Homo sapiens: one gene and its partner. The protein of the gene in region 2 interacts with the protein of the main gene of each other region in a pairwise test. Each region holds a gene or a part of one and is shown on either strand. Other genes may lie near its edges.

What was found.
Region 1: the proteins of MYO1E (region 2) and SYNJ1 interact in a two-hybrid assay, tested with the Homo sapiens proteins (one study listed by IntAct).

Annotation. Positions count from the first base shown.
Region 1 is NC_000021.9:32,659,588-32,670,739, forward strand, and holds part of SYNJ1 (synaptojanin-1), read right to left. Parts: intron 10,786-11,152; coding exon 10,701-10,785; intron 6,987-10,700; coding exon 6,846-6,986; intron 6,549-6,845; coding exon 6,356-6,548; intron 5,485-6,355; coding exon 5,326-5,484; intron 5,130-5,325; exon of another isoform or gene 1,912-5,129; intron 1,807-1,911; exon of another isoform or gene 1,641-1,806; intron 1-1,640. UniProt on the Homo sapiens protein: Phosphatase that acts on various phosphoinositides, including phosphatidylinositol 4-phosphate, phosphatidylinositol (4,5)-bisphosphate and phosphatidylinositol (3,4,5)-trisphosphate. Has a role in clathrin-mediated endocytosis.
Region 2 is NC_000015.10:59,361,128-59,372,279, forward strand, and holds part of MYO1E (unconventional myosin-Ie), read right to left. Parts: intron 1-11,152. UniProt on the Homo sapiens protein: Actin-based motor molecule with ATPase activity. Unconventional myosins serve in intracellular movements. Their highly divergent tails bind to membranous compartments, which are then moved relative to actin filaments.

The DNA of each region.
Region 1 (11,152 bases), on a different chromosome or scaffold from region 2:
CTGTTCTGATTACTGGTGCATGCAGCCCCCAGTCACATACCCCCTGCTTGCTCAATTGATCATGACCCTATCACGCGGACCCCCTTGGAGTTGTAAGCCCTTAAAAGGGACAGGAATTGCTCACTCGGGGAGCTCAGTTTTTGGAGACGCAAGTCTGCCGATGCTCCCAGCTGAATAAAGCCCTTTCCTTCTACAACTCGGTGTCTGAGGGGTTCTTGTCTGAGGCTCGTCCTGCTACATTTCTTGGTTCCCCGACCGGGAAGTGAGGTGATTAACGGATGGTCAAGGCAGCCCCTTAGGTGGCTTAGGCCTGCCCTGTGGCACATCCCTGTGGGGGACTCCGGCCAGCTTGAGCAATGCGGATCCTGAGAGCACTTCCGGGTAGGTAATTGCCCCGGTCGAACGCCTCACCACAGCAGCGCATGGCAGGCCCCCATGAGTTAAAGGAAAAACTTATGTTGGCCCCAGCCCTAGGACTACCAGATTTGACAAACCCCTTTACACTCTATGTGTCAGAAAGATAAAAAATGGCAGTTGGAGTTTTAACCCAGACTGTGCGGCTCTGGCCAAGGCCAGTGGCCTATCTCTCAAAACAACTAGATGGGGTTTCCAAAGGCTGGCCCCCATGTCTAAGGGCCCTGGCAGCAATGGCCCTGTTAGCACAAGAAGCAGATAAACTAACCCTTGGGCAAAACCTGAATATAAAGGCCTTCCATACTGTGGTAACTTTGATGAATACCAAAGGACATCATTGGCTAACAAATGCTAGATTAACCAAGTACCAAAGCTTGCTATGTGAAAATCCCCGCATAATCACTGACGTCTGTAACACCCTAAATCCCGCCACCCTGCTCCCAGTATCAGAGAGCCTGGTCAAGCATAACTGTGTAGACATGTTGGACTCAGTTTATTCTAGCAGACCTGACCTTCGGGACCAGCCATGGGCATCAGCAGACTGGGAGTTATACATGGACGGGAGCAACTTCATCAATCCACATGGAGAAAGATGTGCAGGATATGCGGTGGTAACTTTGAACGCTGTCATTGAAGCCAAACCATTGCCACAGGGCACTTCAGCCCAGAAGGCTGAGCTCATTGCTTTAACTCGGGCTCTAGAACTCAGTGAAGGTAAGACTGTAAACATCTACACTGACTCTTGATATGCCTTTCTAACCCTCCAAGTGCATGGAGCATTATATAAGGAAAAGGGCCTGTTAAACTCTAGGGGAAAGGACATAAAATATCAACAAGAAATTCTACAATTATTAGAGGCAGTGTGGAAACCTCAGAAGGTGGCAGTCATGCACTGCAGGGGACACCAGCGAGCCTCCACCTCAGTGGCCTTAGGAAACTCCCAAACTGACTCAGAAGCTCGAAAAGCAGCATCTACCCCTTACTGTGCATCAGTAGCAGCCCCCTTACTCCCTCAAACACCTGACCTGGTACCTACCTATTCTAAGGAAGAAAAAGACTTTTTCCACACAGAAGTGGGGCAAGTAATAAAAGAAGGATGGATCAGACTGCCAGATGGGAAGGTAGCTGTGCCACAGTTGCTGAGAGCCACAGTCGTACTGGCCATGCATGAAACCACTCTTCTAGGTCAAGAGTCACTTGAAAAGTTGTTAGGCCGGTACTTCTACATCTCACACTTGCCAGCCCTTGCCAAAGCAGTAGCACAATGGTGTGTTACTTGCTGACAGCGCAATGTGAGGCAAGGCCCCACGGTTCCACCCAGCATACAAGCTTATGGAGCGGCTCCTTTTGAGGGTCTTCAGGTGGATTTCACAGAAATGCCAAAATGTGAAGGTAACAAGTATTTGCTGGTTCTTGTGTGTACTTACTCTGGGTGGGTGGAGGCTTATCCAACACAAACTGAAAAGGCCTACGAAGTAACCCGTGTGCTTCTCCGAGATCTTATTCCTAGGTTTGGACTGCCCTTACGAATTGGCTCACATAACGGGCCGGTGTTTGTGGCTGACTTGGTACAGAAGACAGCAAAGGCATTAGGAATCACTTGGAAACTACATGCCGCCTACTGACCTCAGAGTTCTGGAAAGGTGGAGCGAATGAATCAGACTATCAAAAATAGTTTAGGGAAAGTATGTCAGGAAACAGGATTAAAATGGATACAGGCCCTTCCTATGGTATTGTTTAAAATTAGATGCATCCCTTCTAACAGGATACTCCCCTTATGAAATACTGTATCATAGGCCTCCTCCTATACTAGGGGGACTTCCAGGCACTCCCCGAGAGTTAGGTGAAATTGAGTTACAGTGACAGCTACGGGCTTTGGGAAAAATTACACAAACAATCTCAACTTGGGTAAATGAGAGGTGTCCCGTCAGCTTATTCTCCCCAGTTCACCCTTTCTCTCCAAGTGATCGCATGTGGATCAAGGACTGGAACGTAGTCCCTTTGCGGCCACAGTGGAAAAGACCTCACACCATCATCCTGACCACCCCCACGGCTGTAAAGGAGAAGGAATCCCAGCCTGGATCCACCACAGCCGTGTGAAACCTGCAGCTGCTGAAACTTGGGAGGCAAAACCGAGCCCAGACAACTCCTGAAAGTGACTCTGAGGAGGATGACAAGCCCTGCTCCAGTCACACCCGGAAGCTGACTGGTCTACGCACGGCCGAGGCATGAGGAGAATCATCGTGGGACTCATTTTCCTTATAATTTGGACTTGTATAGTAAAAACTTCCACTGATTTTCCCTGCATAGAAGACTGCTCTCAGTGTATACATCAGGTTACTGAGGTAGGGTAACAAGTTAAAACAATCTTTCTGTTCTATAGTTACTATGAATGCCTAGGAACTTTAAAAGGAACGTGTTTATATAATGACACTCAGTACGAGGTATGTAGCCTAGGAAACGACTGCCCAGATGTGTGTTATGATCCCTCTGTGGCCTCCCAGGTCCACAGTTTTTGAAGTAAGATTAAGGACTGAAGACTGATGGGGACTTGTAAATGATACAAGTATTAGCCAAAACAGAAGAAAAAGGGGTGCCCAAACGCATAATCTTGAAATTTGATGCCTGTGCTGTCATTAAGAGCAATAAGTTAGGAAGGGGTGTGGCTTTTGATTGGGAAAAAGGCTATATGACCAAAAATAAGTATATTTGTCATGAATTAGGACTGTGTGGAAATCAATGTGGATACTGGTGTCATTTGGGCCACTTGGATAAAAAATGAAAAGGATCCAGTGCAGCTTCAGAAAGGAAAAAGTGGCCCTTCCTGTACTAAGGGACAATGTAACCCCTTAGAGCTAGTAATAACCAATCCCCTTGATCCTCGCTGGAAAAAAGGGGAGCGTGTGACCTTAGGAATCAATGGGGCTGGACTGGATCCTCGAGTAAATATCTTAGTTCGAGGAGAAGTTTACAAACACTCTCCTGAGCCAGTGCTTCAAACTTTCTATGATGAACTAAATGTGCCAGTACCAGAAATTCCAGGAAAAACAAGAAATTTGTTTTTGCAATTAGCCAAGCATGTAGCCTAGTCTCTCAATGTTGCTTCACATTATGTATGTGGAGGAACTGTAATGGGAGATCAATGGCCACGAGAAGCCCGAGAATTAGTACCTACAGACCCAGTTCCTGATGAATTCCCAGCTCAAAAGAATCACCCTGATAATTTCTGGGTCCTAAAAACCTCAATTATTGGACAATATTGCATAGCTGGAGAAGGAAAAGAATTCACTCACCCCGTAGGATGACTTAGTTGTCTGGGACAGAAACTGTATAATGGTACCACAAAAACAGTCACTTGGTGGAGTTCAAATCACACAGAAAGGAATCCATTTAGTAAATTCCCAAAGTTGCAAACCGTGTGGACCCATCCGGAGTCCCACCAGGACTGGACAGCCCCCACTGGATTATACTGTATATGTGGGCATAGAGCTTGTGCCAAATTATCCAACCAGTGGACAGGTAGTTGTGTTATTGGCACTATTAAACCATCTTTCTTCCTACTGCCCATAAAGACAGGCAAACTCCTGGGTTTCCCTGTCTATGCTGCCCGAGAAAAGAGAAGCATAGCTATAGGAAATTGGAAAGATGATGAATGGCCCCCTGAGAGAATCATACAATATTACAGACCTGCTACTTGGGCACAAGATGGCTCGTGGGGATACTGGACCCCCATTTACATGCTCAACCGAATCATACGGTTACAAGCTGTCTTAGAAATAATCACTAATAAAACTGGCAGAGCCTTGACTATACTGCCCTGGCAAGAGTCTCAGATGAGAAATGCTATCTATCAAAATAGATTGGCTCTCGACTACTTGCTAGCAGCTGAAGGTGGGGGTCTGTGGGAAATTTAACCTTACTAATTGCTGTCTATACACAGATGATGAAGGGCAAGTAGTTGAAGACATAATTAGAGATATGACAAAACTGACACATGTGCCTGTGCAAGTGTGGCATGGATTTGATCCGGGGGCCATGTTTGAAAAATGGTTCCCAGTGCTAGGAGGATTTAAAACTCTTATAATAGGAGTTATAATAGTAATAGGAACCTGCTTACTGCTCCCTTGTTTGCTACTTGTACTTCTTCAAATGATAAAAAGCTTCATCACTACCTTAGCTCACCAAAATGCTTCAGCGCAAGTGTACCATATGAATCACTATCAATCTGTCTTGCAAGAAGACATGGGTAATGAGGATGAAAGTGAGAACTCCCATTAATGAGTGAAGTTCTCAAAGGGGGGAATAAGGGAGGAGACCACCCCTCATATTGTCTTATGCCCAATTTCTGCCTCCAAAGAAAGAAGTGAAAACTAAAAGGCAGAAATGGAATCACAGGCAGATAGCCCAGCACTGTGCCCTGGGCCTGGTAGTTAAAAATCAACCCTTGACCTAACCGCTTGTGCTATCTATAGATTTCAGACATTGTATGGAAAAGCATCGTGAAAATCCCTGTCCTGTTCCATTCTGATTACCAGTGCATGCAGCCCCCAGTCCCATACCCCCTGCTTGCTCAATCGATCACGACCCTCTCACATGGACTCCCTTAGAGCTGTAAGCCCTTAAAAGGGACAGGAATTGCTCACTCGGGGAGCTCGGTTTTTGGAGACGTGAGTCCGCTGCTGCTCCCAGCTGAATAAAGCCCTTTCCTTCTACAACTTGGTGTCTGAAGGGTTCTTGTCTGCAGCTCATCCTGCTACACTTTAAGGAAAGATAATTCTATTATCTGTTTACCTACAGATGCATATTTAAGTACAAAAAGACCCCAAGAAAATTTTAAAACATCTTGATTTAAAAAGGCATGTTTCACGACCCAAAATCTTAATGCAAGTATTTTCTCAAGTATAGATATACCTGTCCAGCATTTTTCTGATTGATAAGTTGATCTCCTGCTATAAGAGAATCCCAATTTTGCTGTCTTATGAGCTCTTTAACTTCTTCGTTAGGGAGATCGATTCGATAGTTGAAATCACCACACCAAAATACATAGTCATGGGAAAATAGCATCCTTCCCTGAAAGCAATGAGATAGAATTTTAAATTCAAAACAATCAATGTTCAAAAATGTTTTACAACTATTTCTTTGCCTGAGATATGCTTGTCTCCTCCCATGTCCTGTTTCTTTGACCCAACAGTAATAACACATGTGAAACGAAAATAAATCTCAGGACCCCAAAATCACTAAGCCCAGAGAAAAATCAAGCCAGGAACTATGACAGGTAAACCTGCCTCCCATTTTACTCCTAAATAAGATAGCTCCAAAGATAAGAAGCTACATAACTCCCTCACAATTTGCCCACAGGAAATTCCTTGTGGACAAAGTATAGACTGAACTCAAAGTCATCCCTCTGAGACTCACCTGAGACAAATGCACATCTGACTGCTTCCTCTGCCCTATTGTTTATGCAAAAATGCAGATTCACTGAGCCACACTAAATTGTGTATTCAGTGGAAGGCTGATCTAGGACTTAAAAGAATGCAACCTTTTGCGTCTTATCTACTTCTAACCTGGAAGCCCCCACTTCGAGTTGTCCTGCCTTACCAGACCAAACCAGTGTACATCATACACATACTGACTGATGTCTCAGGTCTCCCTAAAATGTATAAAAGCAAACTGTACCCCCGACCACCTTGGGCACATGTCATTCTGAATTCTGGAGGCTATATCATGGCCACATCCTTAACCTTGGCAAAATAAACTTTCTAAATTGACTGAGCCCTGTCTCAGATATTTTGGGTTAATACTCATGAAATATCTATTTAGGTGAATATTCTTAATGTTTCTAGGAACTATCTTAAATTTCCAAAAACATTGATGTAGAATTTGGGGCAAATTAAAATATATTTCAAAGCTTTATCTTCAAGAACAAGCAGCAAGAGCTTACCATAGGAAAACTCAATTTTCGTGCTATTTCTATAAAATCTTCATTTCTTTCTTTGACTTGTGACTGCCCTGCAGCAAAGTGGCTACAGACGAAGCAAAGGCTGGTTGTATGGAAGAGCATTCGGATTGCAACTGCTCCCTTATTTCCAGTTGCACCTCCCATTCCAGTCTTCACAGTATCAACTGCAACATCCCTTTGAAACAAAGAATTCTAAATCGCAGATTTGAAATTTCAAGAGTTCCATGTGCATAGGAAATGAGGAATATACATAATCATTTAAGTACACATGGTATGGTACTTTGAGGGCAAGCCTTTGAAATAGTACAGTGAAGCTATTGGTGAGTCTTTAATCAAAACCCCCAAAACCCCATTTTAAAACAAGAACTATGGATAGTTTTTGTTTGAAGAACTGAAACAATAAACATTCTAGGCTTTTTTCTTGTTATTTAATGGTAGGAAGTAGCCTTAGAGGAGTGTTCTGTTTACTGACCTGATAAAAGGAGCATGCTGTGGTCTGATAAAAACAAACAAACAGACGCCCACCAACTGTTCAGAAGCCAGCAGCACATACTTGTTGTCTCTGGAGATTGTCTTCTGAAGTTCTACAGCCCAGAGCTTCTGATTTGTTGTGCTACAAGAAAATATTAAAAAGAGAATTTTTTAAAAAGGTATTGACAATAGCCTATTTTATGACAATTGTCAATTATACCTTTATCTACCCAAATATCCTAAGACTCTGAAGGAAGCTTAGGCTGTTTTTGTTTCCTTTAAAAAGGAAAATCTACAATTTAGCCAAAAGAAAACCACATTTCAAAATCTAATCTATTACTTCTTTACAAAGAAAATATAAAGACATTAAATGGCTACTCACTGGGTGAGTAAATTCAAACTTATACATTTTACTTTTTCCTTAAGTATTCATTAAGATCACAGAGAAGTATAGAAGTATCTGTGGGAGATTGGTTTCAGGACCTCCCATGATACCAAAATCCAAGGATACTCAAGTCCCTTACATAAAATGGAGTAATACTTGCATATAACCCATGTAAATCTCTCGTATACTTTAAATCATCTCTAGATTACCTATAATACCTAATACAATGTAATTAGTTGTTATATTGTAATGTTTAGGGAATAACGATACAAAAAAGTCTGCAAGTAAAAAAGACAAAAAAAAAAAGGCTACACATGTTCAGTATAGACACAATTTTAAAAAATATTTAATATTTTGATGAGTTGAATCCAAAGATGTCAGACCCATGGATAAGGACAGCTAACTGTGCACATATATGTGACTATATGTGCTTCCAAATACATTTCCCCACTTTTCAAAATTTTTCTAAATTATAACTAATGTCTTTTTAAAAAATCTTGCTATGGGAAATTAGAAGACATAATCATTAAACAAACCACCATATACCCATTTCAAAATTACCAACATTTTGCCAATCTATTTTTTCCATCCTCTTCACCTTATCACATTTAAACATTAATAATTCCTTAATATCATCTAATAGTTTATACTTAAAGTTCCCCATTTATTAAAAAAAAATCTTCTAACAGTTGGTTTGTTTCTTTAAAAAGGGTCCAAACAAGGTCTACATATTGCATTTGCTTGTCATGTCTCCTAATCTCTCTTTTTTTCTTGAGATGGGGTCTCACTCTGTCACCCAGGGCTGGAGTGCTGTGGCAGGATGTCGGTTCACTGCAACCTCTGCCTGAGCTCAAGCGATCCTCCCACCTCAGCCCCGCAAGTAGCTGAAACTCATTCCTCATCTTCTCAATGAACCTTATCTTGATCATTCATTTGAGACTTCCAACACTTCCCTGTGTCCCTATAGTTGATCTCCTTTTCCTCTCTTTTCCATTGCACTTTTCTAACATGCTGTATAATTTACTTATTGTTGTTATTGTTCACTGTCCGTTTCTTCCCACTAGAATACGAAGTCCATGAAGATAGGGATTTTTGTCTGTTTGATTCATTGGAGGTACTTAAGAGTGGTACTCAGTAGGTACTGCTTAAATAAATGAATAAATATTCACTACTTTATTAAAGAAGAATATATATGTGTGTGTGTGTGTGTGTGTGTGTGTGTGTGTGTGTGTGCATGTGTGTATATATATATACATATACATATTTGAGACAGAGTCTTGCTCTGTCACTCAGGCCGGAGTGCGGTGGTGCGATCTCCACTCACTGCAACCTCCGTCTCCCAGGTTCAAGCGATTCTCCCTGCCTCAGCCTCCTGAGTAGCTGGGATTACAGGCACGGGGCACCACGTCCAGCTGATTTTTTTGTATTTTTAGTAGAGATAGGGTTTCACTATATTGGCCAGGCTGGTCTCAAACTCCTGACCTCAAGTGATCCACCTGCCTTGGCCTCCCAAAGCATTGGGATTACAGGCATGAGCCACCACACCCAGCCTAAAGAATTTGATTAAACCTAGCCTAAAGAAGAATTTGATTAAACTCTATTTAGACAAACAATTGATCCATGCACTTAGTACTAGGAACCCTCAGAGTTATAGTCTAGTTTAGGACCTGAATATATTTTTCAGGAAACATAATCAAACAACAAAATGGGTGAAGTTGATTTCTTTCCAATTTTCCTGATGTGAATTGTTTTTCATTTTGCCTAATAAAATATTTGTCACTTGCAAGATTGATGACTATTTCAGCCTATAATTTTCTCCTAAAAATCTTTAAAAATGTCATAAAAGATGGGAAACTGCTGAAATTTAAAAGCAAGCATACTTTGTTAAAATAAAACACTGAAGTTTTAAGCCTCACTCATATAATTTGTATTTATAATATGGATTCAGAACAGCGTTCCCAAAGTGTGATCTGGAGACATCTTTGAGGGTTCCCAAAGCCCATGGGGTCACAACTATTTTCATCATACTATTAAGACATCTTTCACTGTGTTGACTAACATTTGCACTGATGGTGCAAAAGCAACAATGGGTAAAAGTGCTGGTGCTTTCACTCGAATTTAGGCACCAAACTATACTAGTCATCATTACAATCCCCACTGCCATATACTTGCAGGAAAAAAAAAATGCCACTTCGCCTAAGAATGTCCTTGATGAAGCAACAGACATTATTGATTTTATTAAAGCTCAACCCAGGTCACATCTTTTTAATATTCTGTGTGATACACAGGAAATACATACAAAGCACTTGTGTTGCATACTGACTTATGATCTGTAACAAAAAAAGAAAATGCTTTAAATTGTGAGTCAAACTGCCACTTTTTTTTTGGAATACAATTTTCCCTTAAAAGAACTAATGACAGACGGTGGTTATTCAGATTTAGGTTATGTGGCATTTTTTTCAACTAAGCCTGTCTCTTTAAGAAAAACAACCAAGAGCATTTGTTTTCAATGGAAAAACTTGCGTTTTCAGGCAAAAATTAGTATTCTGGAAAACTTGTATCTGCTACCATGATCCTTACAGCTTCCCAACAATTATTTTCTGATGCAGTTACCAATGCTGGTAATTAACCAATATGATGCTTTGATATTATATAATGAAATGTGTTAAAATTTGGAAGTGCTACATAACTTAGGGAACCCAAGTGACCAATACATGATGTTACAAAATCACGCAAAGGTAAAAGATGAATTTTAGATAATAGAGCAGAAAAAGTTCATCAATATGGTTTCAGATTCCATTTTGCAACTAACCTTTAGGACACTACCATTTGGTATAGTGTCTTATCCACACACTACACCAAGATAATACTTCTCTGTTATCTATACTACAGCAGAGAATAAATTATCTGTTTTGGTGTAGTATCAGAGAAGAAATTATCTAGAAAGGTTATTAAAATATTTCCTTTTCAAACTACATAGTTATGTGATTTTTCTTCATATACTTCAATCAAAACAACATACTGCAGCAGACTGACACAGAAGTAGATGTAAGAATCTGGCTGTCTTAAACTAGACATTAAAGAGATTTGGAAAACTACAAGACAGTGCCACCCTTCTCAGTAAATTTTTTGTTTTGAAAAAGTTATTTTTCAAAAAATTTATTTTAAGTTAGCATGTAATAGGTTTATTATTGTTTTTAAGTGAATTAAATGTTTTTAAATTTTCATTTTTAATTCCTAATATAACAAAGATATAAACAACATTAGCAAAAGTTATTTAACATTCTCAATATTTTTAAGTGTGCAGAGAGATCCTCAGACCCAAAAGTATGAGAAATGCTCTTTTACAGTTTTACGAGCACCCTTCCATTTATTATTTCAAACTATCCTTGTAACAATTACTTAATTATCTGTCCTCCATAGTTTCCCTCAACTGGCAAATTTTTCAGTGGATTAATGTGGCTAGCTTACCTTGCACTCACAATGTTTCCAGCATTCAATTCTACCATTTCTTCAAAACCAATTGCAAATATATCAGTTGGCTTACTTCTTTTATCTAAAATTAAGCATCCAAGAAATACTTTTAAATATAGCCTCAGGCAAATAGCAACCCCATCCAACACAACATAACACCAGGTCTCATAAAGACTGATTTCTGTGTTTTGAGTTTAACCAAATTCATATTAAAGGCAAACACTCTTGAGTGGAATGAAATTATTAAAATTTACTTTCTATTAGGGTGTCCTAAGTTTGCTTCTTTAAGACGGTTATCCTTGAAGATTCTTAAGCCCTTTCAGAATTCACTTTGAAAAAACTCTTGCTAAAGTTTTTACCAGGGACAGCACAGAAACAAATCATTTCTCAAATCAAAATCTCACATAAAACTGGAGAGAGAAATTATTCAGAAAAGGCACAAAGAATAA
Region 2 (11,152 bases):
TGGCCCCAGCTGAGACTGGACCAACTACCAGACATGTGAGTGAGGCCACCCTAGATCATCCATTCCCAGCCAAGCCACTAGCTGACCACAGTGATTGAATGAACCAGCTGAGACCAGAACTGCCACGCCAGTGCACAAAATCATAAGAAAGTATAAACATTTATTATTTAAGTTACTGAGTTTGGGTGATTGGTCACACCAAAAGCTAACACAAGAAAAGGTGGCTAAGCAGAGCTAAGATGTATTGAACATTGGGAGACATATCCCCTAATGGCTCTTTACACAATAGTCAGTGGGACTCACTATTGATGCGACTGTATGTCAACTGTCATTGAAATAACCTGACATAGATCCAAAATTGACCATACTCCCTAATACTCATTTCAAGACAATGTTAGTTGTAATTCTTGGAATGCTACTGTATGGGCTTCAGGGGTTTATAAACCTCCTGAAGTTAAATGAAGAATTATATGTATTTTTTCATCTGAACTGAGAAAAGATGTTAAAACTACAGAGGATAACAAAGAAATATATATGTACAACTGCCTAGAATTAATAATATCTCATCATATTTGCTTTGGATTTTTCTATATGTAAAGCAAATAAAACATTACTGACTCAGTCGTCTCCCTTTCCTCTTTCCCCCTTCAGTATTTTGAACTTGGTGTGGATCTTTCTAGTCTGTGGATTTTTTTAATTAATTTATTAATTAATTTATTTATTTTTTGAGATGGAGTCTGGCTGTATCGCCCAGGCTGGAGTACAGTGGAATGATCTCAGCTTACTGCAACCTCCTCCTCCTGGGTTCAAACGATTCTCCTGCCTCAGCCTCCCGAGTAGCTGGGATTACGGGCGTCTACCACCACGCCAGGCTAATTTTTGTATTTTTAATAGAGATGGGGTTTCGCTATGTTGGCTAGGCTGGTCTCGAACTCCTGACCTCAGGTGATCCACCCGCCTCGGCCTTCCAAAGTGCTAGGATTACAAGCATGAGCCACCACGCCCAGCCTATATTTTTTAAAATAATATCCACACAAATACATATATGTACACATACACAAATAAATGTATAGACCCCCAAATAGCAGTCTTATTTTGTGTTTTTGACATTTTTCTTACATGGTTTCAGATATGCGTCTTTCTACAACTTGCTTCTTTACCAAACACTACCCTTGTGACACCTATGCATATTGATACCATATTATCAAACAAGCCACATGTATTTCTCTTCCAATGAACATTTAGATTGTTCCTGTTTTGTTTGTTCTCGTGATCTGCGGAATGTTTATTTGTTATTATAAACACTGTCAGGGAAAAGGTCAGTAGCTTCCAACATATTCTCAGAGGACTCAGGACATTCTCCCATCCAAATGTTAGGAATCTCTGATAATCTGATGTGGAGAAAGGGCACTGTCATCATTTTGCATTGATGCATATTTCTGCATTACAGCATTCCCAAGCCTTGAAGGAAGCTATCTTTACTTACATTCTTAAAATAGCTTATTAGATTCTTCTGCATTTAAATCTAAAATTTTCTATAAGGTCTGCATCTTCCTAGGACACCAAAAACAGCCCTATTATTTTTTCATTGAAAATTTCTTAGAATCAGATAATACTGTCCAAAATATTCTGTGACCATGTAATGTTATCCTAAATTGCTGTCAACATCAAATGGTGGTCACACCGAAGAAATTATTAGGAGACTAACAATGTGATATTCTAATTTTGTTGTTGTATTCTGTAATGTATTTAAGAATTAAACAACTAAATCTCTGTTGTTCTCACATTTTCCTATTTTCTATTTTTTTTAATCCTAGTTAAGATTAGAGAGCCTTCTAGTATGACTTTCTTTTTTTTTTTTTTTTTGAGACGGAGTCTCGCTGTGTCACCCAGGCTGGAATGCAGTGGCACGATCTCGGCTCACTGCAAGCTCCGCCTCCCAGGCTCACGCCATTCTCCCACCTCAGCCTCCTGAGTAGCTGGGACTACTGGTGCCCACCACCATGCCTGGCTAATTTTTTTTGCATTGTTAGTAGAGACGGGGTTTCACCATGTTAGCCAGGATGGTCTCGATCTCCTGACCTCGTGATCCACCCGCCTCGGCCTCCCAAGGTGCTGGGATTACAGGCGTGAGCCACCATGCCCGGCCAGTATTACTTTCTTTTACTTTTATGCTTGCTCTCACTATGACATCTTCTAGTCTCTATGGCAAAGTCCCAAAGCAAGGAAATTAAAACTCAGAACACTACTACTCATAACAGACAATGTTCTTAAGTCTAAATTATCCCCTCTGGTATTACTGAATAAAATCAACCAAAATTGGTGATTTTCTATCAGCCTTACCTTCCCTCAGGAGTATGTGAAATAATGAAAAAGTATACAAATACGTGGACTCGGCATTGTCAAATTTAGAAATAATTTATTGAACCACTTTTCAAAGAGCATGGACTTAGCAGATCTGGCTGGTCACATACAAATTGTGTGGCCCTAAGTAATTCCCCTCCCCTCACTACACTTTGATTTTCTTACCTGTAAAATGGCAATAAAAACCAACACTGGTGCTAGAATGAAATGAAATCATGTATATGGAAGCCTTTTGTTATCATTTCTCCACTATATGGGGAGCTTCTCATAAGCAGAGGCAGAGAGACTAATTCATCTTTTTGGAGACGGAATCTTGCTCTGTCGCCCAGACTGGAGTGCAGTGGCAAGATCTTGGTTCACCACAACCTCTGCCTCCCATTTCAAGCGATTCTCCTGCCTCAGCCTCCCGAGTAGCTGGGATTACAGGTGCCCGCCACCCCACCCAGCTAATTTTTTTGTATTTTTAGTAGAGACGGGGGTTTTGACATGTTGGCCAGGCTGGTCTCGAACTCCTGACCTCAAGTGATCTGCCCTCCTCGGCCTCCCAAAGTGCTGGGATAACAGGCCTGAGCCACCATGCCCAGCTCTAATTCACCAAGCCTGTATGCTAACCTCCTTTGCCATGGCAATGTCTTCTCTCCACTTTGAGGTTCAAAGCTCTCCATCTCCATCCACTCCCGTTCTCTGGTAAGACCACTCATATTTGCCAAGGAAGACCTAGAGGTCTGAGTACCCACTGGTGTCACATATTTGAGTGTCAACGCCAGAATCCAGGGGGAGCACCAATGGTAGGTACCTTTGGGCTAGAACCTGGGAATGTGGAGTATGCATCCCAAGCTCACCCAAAGAGGGGGCTTCTTATCTCAGGAGCCAAAGATTAAGCAGCCCATTACTGACCACAGCGGTTCTAGTGGGTGGAAGGAGGAACTCTCCCCTGTACACACTTCTGGAGGAAGTCTCCATACAGTTATGACACACAGTGAGTAATCCGGCTACATGGGATTATAATACTGCCACCAAAATATAACAAATATGCTTATCAAGAAAAAGGATTTGTAAAACAAGTGGAAAAATAACAGAACACAAATTGTATATTTGCCCCATAATTACAACCACATAAAAACAATGTGTTTGAGGCCCGGTGTGGTGGCTCATGCCTATAATCCCAGCACTTTGGGAGGTCAAGGTGGGTCACTTGAGGCCAGGAGTTCAAGACCAGCCTGGCCAACATGGTGAAACCCTGTCCCTACTAAAAATAAAACAGTTGGCCGGGCATGGTAGTGTGTACCTATAATCCCAGCTACTCAGGAGGTTGAGGCAGGAGAATCGCTTGAAACTGGGAGGCAGAAGGAGGTTACAGTGAGCCGAGATTATGCCACTGCACTCCAGCCTGGGCGACAGAGTGAGACTCCATCTCAAGAAAAACAAACAAACAAAGAAACAATGCATTTGAACAGACTGAAAGGAAACCCAGAGACAAAAATAATTACTGTGTTAGGGTGTGGGGGTACTTTGGGTGAATTATTCTAAATTTCTTTTTCTTTTTTTTTTTCTTTTTTGAGATGTGCCCCAGGCTGTAGTGCAATGGTGTGATCTCGGCTCACTGCAACCTCGGCCTCCCAGGTTCAAGCAGTTCTCCTGCCTCAGCCTCCCAAGTAGCTGAGATTACAGGTGCCTGCCACCACACTCGGCTAATTTTTTATTTTTAGTAGAGACAGGGTTTCACCATGTTGGCCAGGCTGGTCTCGGACTTCTGACCTCAGGTGATCCCTCCACCTCAGCCTTCCAAAGTGCTGGGATTACGGGCGTTAGCCACCGCGCCCGGCTGAATTCTTCTAAATTTCTTATAATGAAGTTAGTACAGTAACCTTCCACCTACAAGCAGACTTTCTTGAAAAGTCCCAGAAAGAAAACTATCTGGTCACGTCCAGACTCTTAAAGAATTATTCCCACCACTGTTTGGTAAGAAAAACCTTATTAGACTGGGATCTAATAAGGTTAGATCTGCACTGGATCAGATCTAACTTGGATTCTGGCACCAGCTCAGCTAAAAACTAGCTATGAGACTTTGGAAGTAATTTAACCTCTCTAGATCTCTCTGTGAAGTTAACAAATGGATTTAGGATAGAATTTTTAAGCTCTCTTCTGGGCTTTCTACAATGTAGCCTATGTTTTACTTTCTATAATGTAACGTATGACCATAAAGTGCTATAAATGAATTTGTAACAAACATTATCAGAGCTCAAAAGACCCAAGAGAGTGTGCCTCCTTCAGAGCAGTTCTTATACTTATTCCAGGAAAAAGGGACCTGCTGGATACTGCATATCTTTAGTGGGGCTAATTGTTCCGCCTTTGAGGCACAATGTAACTTCTGGAAACACCTGAGAGGGATGTAATACAAAGTCTGGTGAGTAATAGGAATGATCACACTGGGCACTAAGGAGTTAAAAAATAAAAAATAAGGCCCTCCCTCCTTCCCTCTTCTTCCCTTCTTTCTCTCTTTTGAGACAGAGTTTCACTCTTGTTGCCCAGGCTGGAGTGCAATGGCGTGATCTAGGCTCACTGCAACCTCCGCCTCCCAAGTTCAAGTGATTCTCTCTGCCTCAGCCTCCCAAGTAGCTGCGATTACAGGCATGCACCACCACACCTGGCTACTTTTGTATTTTTAGTAGAGACGGGGTTTCACCAGGTTGGCCAAGCTGGTCTCAAACTCCTGACCTCAGGTGATCTGCCCACCTCGGCCCCCCAAAGTGCTGGGATTACAGGCGTGAACCACAGGGCCCAGCCCTGTCTCTTTCTTTTTTTTCTCTCTCTCTCTTTCTCTCTCTCTCTCTCACTCTCACCCAGGCTGCAGTGCCACAGTTACAGCTCACTGCATACTTGAACTCCTCAGTTCAAGAAATCCTCCCACCTCAGCCTCCCAAGTAGCTGGGACTATAGTGCATGACACCACACGTGGCTAATTTTTAAAATTTTTTTTGGTAAAGGCCTGAACGACCACACCCGGCAAAAAAATAGGTTTTATTACATAGCTCATAAATGACCATTCAAAAGTGCTTTGAACAACGGCAATGACGTCATTCTCATGGTGGTAACTCAGAAGGGCGGGCCAACTTCATTCACATGTACAGTTTGAGTTCTATGGGTTGTCAAAGTTCATGTCACTATGTTAGGGCTGGCTTTTACAGTTGTACTTCTCTTAAGTGTGGCTGTCCCAAAGATATATGAAAAAAATACTTTGCTAGGATGCCCCAAAACCTTTTGTCTCTGCCAACATAAATTCTGAAACTGAAATTCAAAACACAATTTGTTTACCACTATTACAGAATGTGCTTATAAGGCTGAGATGTTTATTTTAATACCTTTGGCATTTAACCTTTAACCTCTTATTTACTTTGTAAATATTTCAGCATGGTGAGAAAAAGAAAAAAAAAGTTTTTAAAAACTCACCATTAAGAAACATTTTAATCACAGATTGGTAAAAACACAAGTTGCTGCATTTTCGCAAAAAAAAAAAAAAAAAAAAAAAAAGAGATGACTCAAACTTGGAAAACCATGACTGTACATAATTCCTATATATCCTACCATGAAGCTTATAATACCTTGCACTTACACAGAAGATTTAAAATATTTCTGCTTGTTGAAGCAGATAAAAAGAGATTTCTCAAATTCCTAATGAATAATAAGGCCCCACACTTGGCTCATGAGGAAACGCAAGGTACTATATGTTCTTTCACTGAGTCTCACAGGGGCTCATCACATGCCCACACTAGGCACAGAGGCAAAATGTTGTATTCTAAGTTATCAGAATGCACGCCGCTGCTCATTATCTAACCCTCAGGAAAACGCCTGAGACAGACCGCCAATTCATGAGATTCAACTGAAAAAGGAGTGAAAAACAAGAAGTCCATCATGTGACATTGGAGGCCATGGCATTTTCAGTGGAGGAAGGAGTTGAAGGGTTGAAGAGAAAAGCTCAATTTGCAGCCTCACCACTCGTGGAACCATCCTACACAGGTGTTGAGATAGCGCCAAACAGTAGCAGCTGGATGCAGATTTTCCCTGTTATAATAGCTTAGAGAATGCATAGGCTGAAAATACCAGGCTATTCCCTCTCTTTAGGGAGACCCAGTAGGAAGGTGTGGATGTATGGATAAATACTGAATGCCACTACTGGGTATGCAGTGAACGTTTAGACATTCTTCCTGGTGAGTGAATGAGAAGAATCACTGTGGTTCACAGAAGGACACCATGTTAAGACTTACAATAAAGTGGCTGCAAACAGCTAATCTGCAGCTGTGTTTGGCCCCTCTGAGATGATCAAATCACATATAAAAATTGGCAGAGGCCGGGCGTGGTGGCTCACGTCTATAATCCCAGAACTTTGGGAGGCTGAGGCGGGCAGATCACCTGAGGTCAGGAGTTTGAGACCAGCCTGGCCAACATGGTAAAACCCTGTCTCTACTAAAAATACAAAAATTAGGCGGGTGTGGTGGTGGGGCCTGTAATCCCAGCTACTCAGGGGGCTGAGGCAGGAGAATTGCTTGAACCTGGGAGGCAGAGGTTATAGTGAACCGAGATCGCGCCAGTGCACTCCAGCCTGGGCGACAAGAGCAAAACTCTGTCTCAAAATAAATAAAAATAAGAACTGGCAGATATAGCATAAAAATCTAGATTTCTAGTTTCTCTTGAAAAACAAGATAATTTGGTAATATGGTCGATATAACCATGGCCTAGAATCAAGTAGTGGTGCCTCCTAGAATGGCACATATATTCCATATTTACTCTCTAGAGGCCAGCCTCCCTCCACCAAATTATAAGACATTTAAGTTTGCAACCACTGGCCGGGCACAGTGGCTCATGCCTGTAATCACTTTGGGAGGCCGAGGCAGGAGGATCACGAGGTCAGGACTTTGAGACCAGCCTGGCCAACATAGTGGAACCCCGTCTCCACTAAAAAATACAAAATATTAGCTGGGCATTGTGGCAGGCACCTGTAATCCCAGCACTTTGGGAGGCCGAGGCAGGAGGATCACGAGGTCAGGACTTTGAGACCAGCCTGGCCAACATAGTGGAACCCCGTCTCCACTAAAAAATACAAAATATTAGCTGGGCGTTGTGGCAGGCACCTGTAATCCCAGCTGCTTGGGAGGCTGAGGCAGGAGAATCGTTTGAAACCGGGAGGCGGAGGTTGCAGTGAGTTGAGATCGCGCCAGTGCACTCCAGCCCGGGCGACAGTGAGAGACTCCAACTCAAAAAAAAAAAGTTTGCAACCACTGACAAGACTGTAGTCCTCAGCAAAAGTGTGGTGGAGGTGACTTTCAACTTCAGTAAATGTCTGCTTCTTATACTTCTCCATCCCTCTCCATCCACTGCTCCACCCATTTTCTCTCCAAGGAGATGCCTGGGCTGTCAAATATTTCCCACTAGGATGGCCCACTCACACTTGTCCCTAGATAATGTCCCGGACTCTAGGTATTTCCCCAACGCTTTGCCTCCATCAAAACTTTTTTTGTGCTTGATCCCATTCCTTTCTGGTTTTGTTTTGTTGTATTGTGTTGTTTTGACTAGGAGACTACTAGCAATCTGATAAACTAATCTGTGGAAATCAAGTAGGTTACCTTCCCAGGAAACATTTGAAATGTATTCCAGACTTTCTAAATACATGCCATGCCATCACCTAAAGGAACTTACCTACCTTATCATCAGCTATCCATCAGATTTCTAGGTTGTAAATCTATTCCTGGGTATTCTTATGTGTCATATCTATAATTTCCTCACAAGTATATGCAAGTAAGGAAAAGGGAACAGCTCTTGAACATGTTTTGAGGTGATGGTCAATTCAGATTTGCTCAAATATTTCTGTATATTTAATGCACAGAAACCTTGCATAAAAATCAATCACAATTTCTGGATCCAAAGCACATAGCGGACCTACAGCCATGGGTTTCAGTCTATCAGAGAGTCCAAACTGGTCATGGCCACAAAAGCAGAACTTCCTTTGCAGATGATGATAAGCCCAGATTCTACGAAGGAAGCCTTAGATGGGTATTACGGTTAAAGTCAACAGAGATTTTTTTGTACTCTGCTAAACAACCTCCACTAAATTATAAAGATGTGCAGGGTTTTTTTTAACTTCTTCAAGTCTCCTTAGGAAAAAGACACAAGTAACTATTGCCTGGTAGTGTTCCTAGTTTTCTCAAGATAGAAAAGTGTCCCAAAGTGAGTTTTCAGGAGGAAGATAGAAGGTGAACTACAAGCTGTACACTGTGTTCATGAGTCAGAAAATGAAAATGGCTATTTTCCTTATGAGTCACAACTGAATGAGTCTTAGTAGGGCCTCAGGTACAGATGGAGAGCCCTCCTACTATGCTACCAGACTTCCTAAAAGACACACGCACACACACACACTCACACAGAAGAAGTCCACGGTATAGGTGTTCTCCCTATAGCCCAGCCAAGGGCCTTCTTTTTCTTCTTCTTCTTCTTAATATTTTTTAACTGAAACAGGGTCTCACTATGTTACCCAGGATGGTCTTGAACTCCTGGGCTCAAGTATTCCTCCTGCCTCAGCCTCCCAAAGTGCTGGGATTACAGGCGTGAGCCACTGCGCCTGGCCGCCAAGGGCCTTCTGATGAATTTTAGCCTCCATGCTAATCTTCAGCCACACCCAAAGAAGGTAATGTCCTTTCCCTTCCTGTTCTAAGCAGCTGAAGGGATACAACTTGGGCAGGCCTGGGCAGATGTGGAACACAAAATGAAGTATCATTTGGCTTGACAGAGTCTGACATAAACATTAAATATTGTAACTTGGGTTTCTGATTATTTAAGATGATGCTCTATTCTAAGGCAACTTCACATACATAATGAACAATTTTTCAAGTCAGGAAAGAAATGATTAACTTTGGCCAAATCACTCTGGATCCAGTAGATCTATCAATGGCACATCTCCTGTTTCAGGACAGCCAGCTGTTTCAACTTTTCCATCAGTGAATTGTGACTTCAGCAACCATATCTGATGCACAGATAGTCGCCTGGGGGCACACAACATGCCCATCTGTGCTGATGGCAGGGAGCCCATCAATAGGGAAGTCACACACTGTCCTCAGATAGAACCACCTCTTCCCTACAGCATGCCTTCTTCGCATGCATTTGACCAACCCTCTACTTCATCTGCAATGGGGCTGAATTAAGCATGGTATCACAGGTTTCGGAAAAGGCAACCTAGAGTATATTTCAGTCCATTCAGCATGAAAAATGAGTTTAACTGAGGGGAAGTTAATTTCCTCAAGGTACCACTCAAGTACTTAAATTCAGTAAGATTCTTTAAGTTCTTGACATAAACACATTGATTTTTTTAAGAAATATTGACCCACGGAAAATGATTACAGCAATTCTCAAGTACCAGGACTATCACACTGCTTCAAGGGACCAGGTGCCCAGTGAGGTAGCTTCACCCAAACACATGCCCAATGGGAATGGTTCTCTGCTGGGGTGAGGGAAGGGGTCCAAAAGTAACGTAGAGTAGACTGACTTCTTAAACCTTAAAACTAGAAGAGGAAATGTATAGACAAAGTGTTCTCTTAGATGGGGCAAAAGTGACTTAATTTTGGACTATGTAAAAAGAAAAGGCTTTGGCCGAGGATGCCTTGAAAGGTTTCTCGTTGATGTTTGTTTGTAATCATTCTTTGGAATAAACAGCACGGGGCAAGGGGGCTTCTGAGCTTTGTGTGCAGGTTTCGATGGGCCTCTGCTGCACTTCCCTCAGGCTGCTCACCGGGATATCGATTTTTTAATTAGTGTTGTGCTGGTTATCATTTTGACTTGGCTTCTCTTCCACAGCCATTAGAAAACAACAGCAAACCAGAAGAGGACGAGATAATCCACCTAAGCAGGACTACTTGAAAAGAAGCAAGTGTGGAAACTATGAAGCCTTGTAATAGATTTTTTTTTTTTTGATGAACTGCCGATCTCTTCAAAATAGAGTCCTTGCTTTCGTGCCCCGCAAAGAAAAGTACACCACGCCAAAGCCCAAGGGAGGTGGCTAAGGTTATACAGGGAGGGAGGGGAGTGTAGCTGGACTGGGGAGTTGGAATAGCAGAAAAGTCACAAGTCAAAGAGGCGGCCCCTTCCACACATTCCCAAAGTGCCAAAGGGAAAACAGCAACAAACTCGAAACTCGCGAGGGCGTCTTCCCGTGCGAAGCGTCCCCTGGATCCCCGAAAAGCCCCGATCCCCTCGCGCTTGGGAAGGGGTGGGGTCCTCTTCAGGAGGTGTTTACTTGGCGTCCGGGGCGCGGAGACCCTCGGGGCCGGCGCCCGGCACAGGTCCGGGGCGGCGTGGTTGCCGCCCGCGCCCGAGTCTCCCTGGCTCTTGACAGCCCGCCGGCCGCCAGGTGCTCGCCCTACCTGGCGCCCCCGCCTGCCTTTGTGCGGCCCGCGCCGCCCCTCGCCAAGGCGGGCCAGGGACCGCCCCCGCCCGCGTGCCGCTGCCAGGCGGGACAGCTGCGGGCGCTGCCGGGCAGCGGAGCGGCGGCGGGGAGGAGAGGGAGTCGGCGCGAGGGTGCCCGGGGCGGGGCGGGCACGGCCGCGGGGAGGGCAGGGGACGCCGCCAGCGGCTGCGGCGCGAGTCTCCGAGCACCTCCCCTGCCGGCTGCGCCCCCCACGTCCCAGCAGGAGGAGGGGACCCCCTCCCGCGCCGTGCCCCTCGCAGCCGATGCGCCCACACCCTGGCTTCCGACAGCTGGCAGCCATAGCAACCCGGCCACAGAAAGTTTCGCGACGCAGAA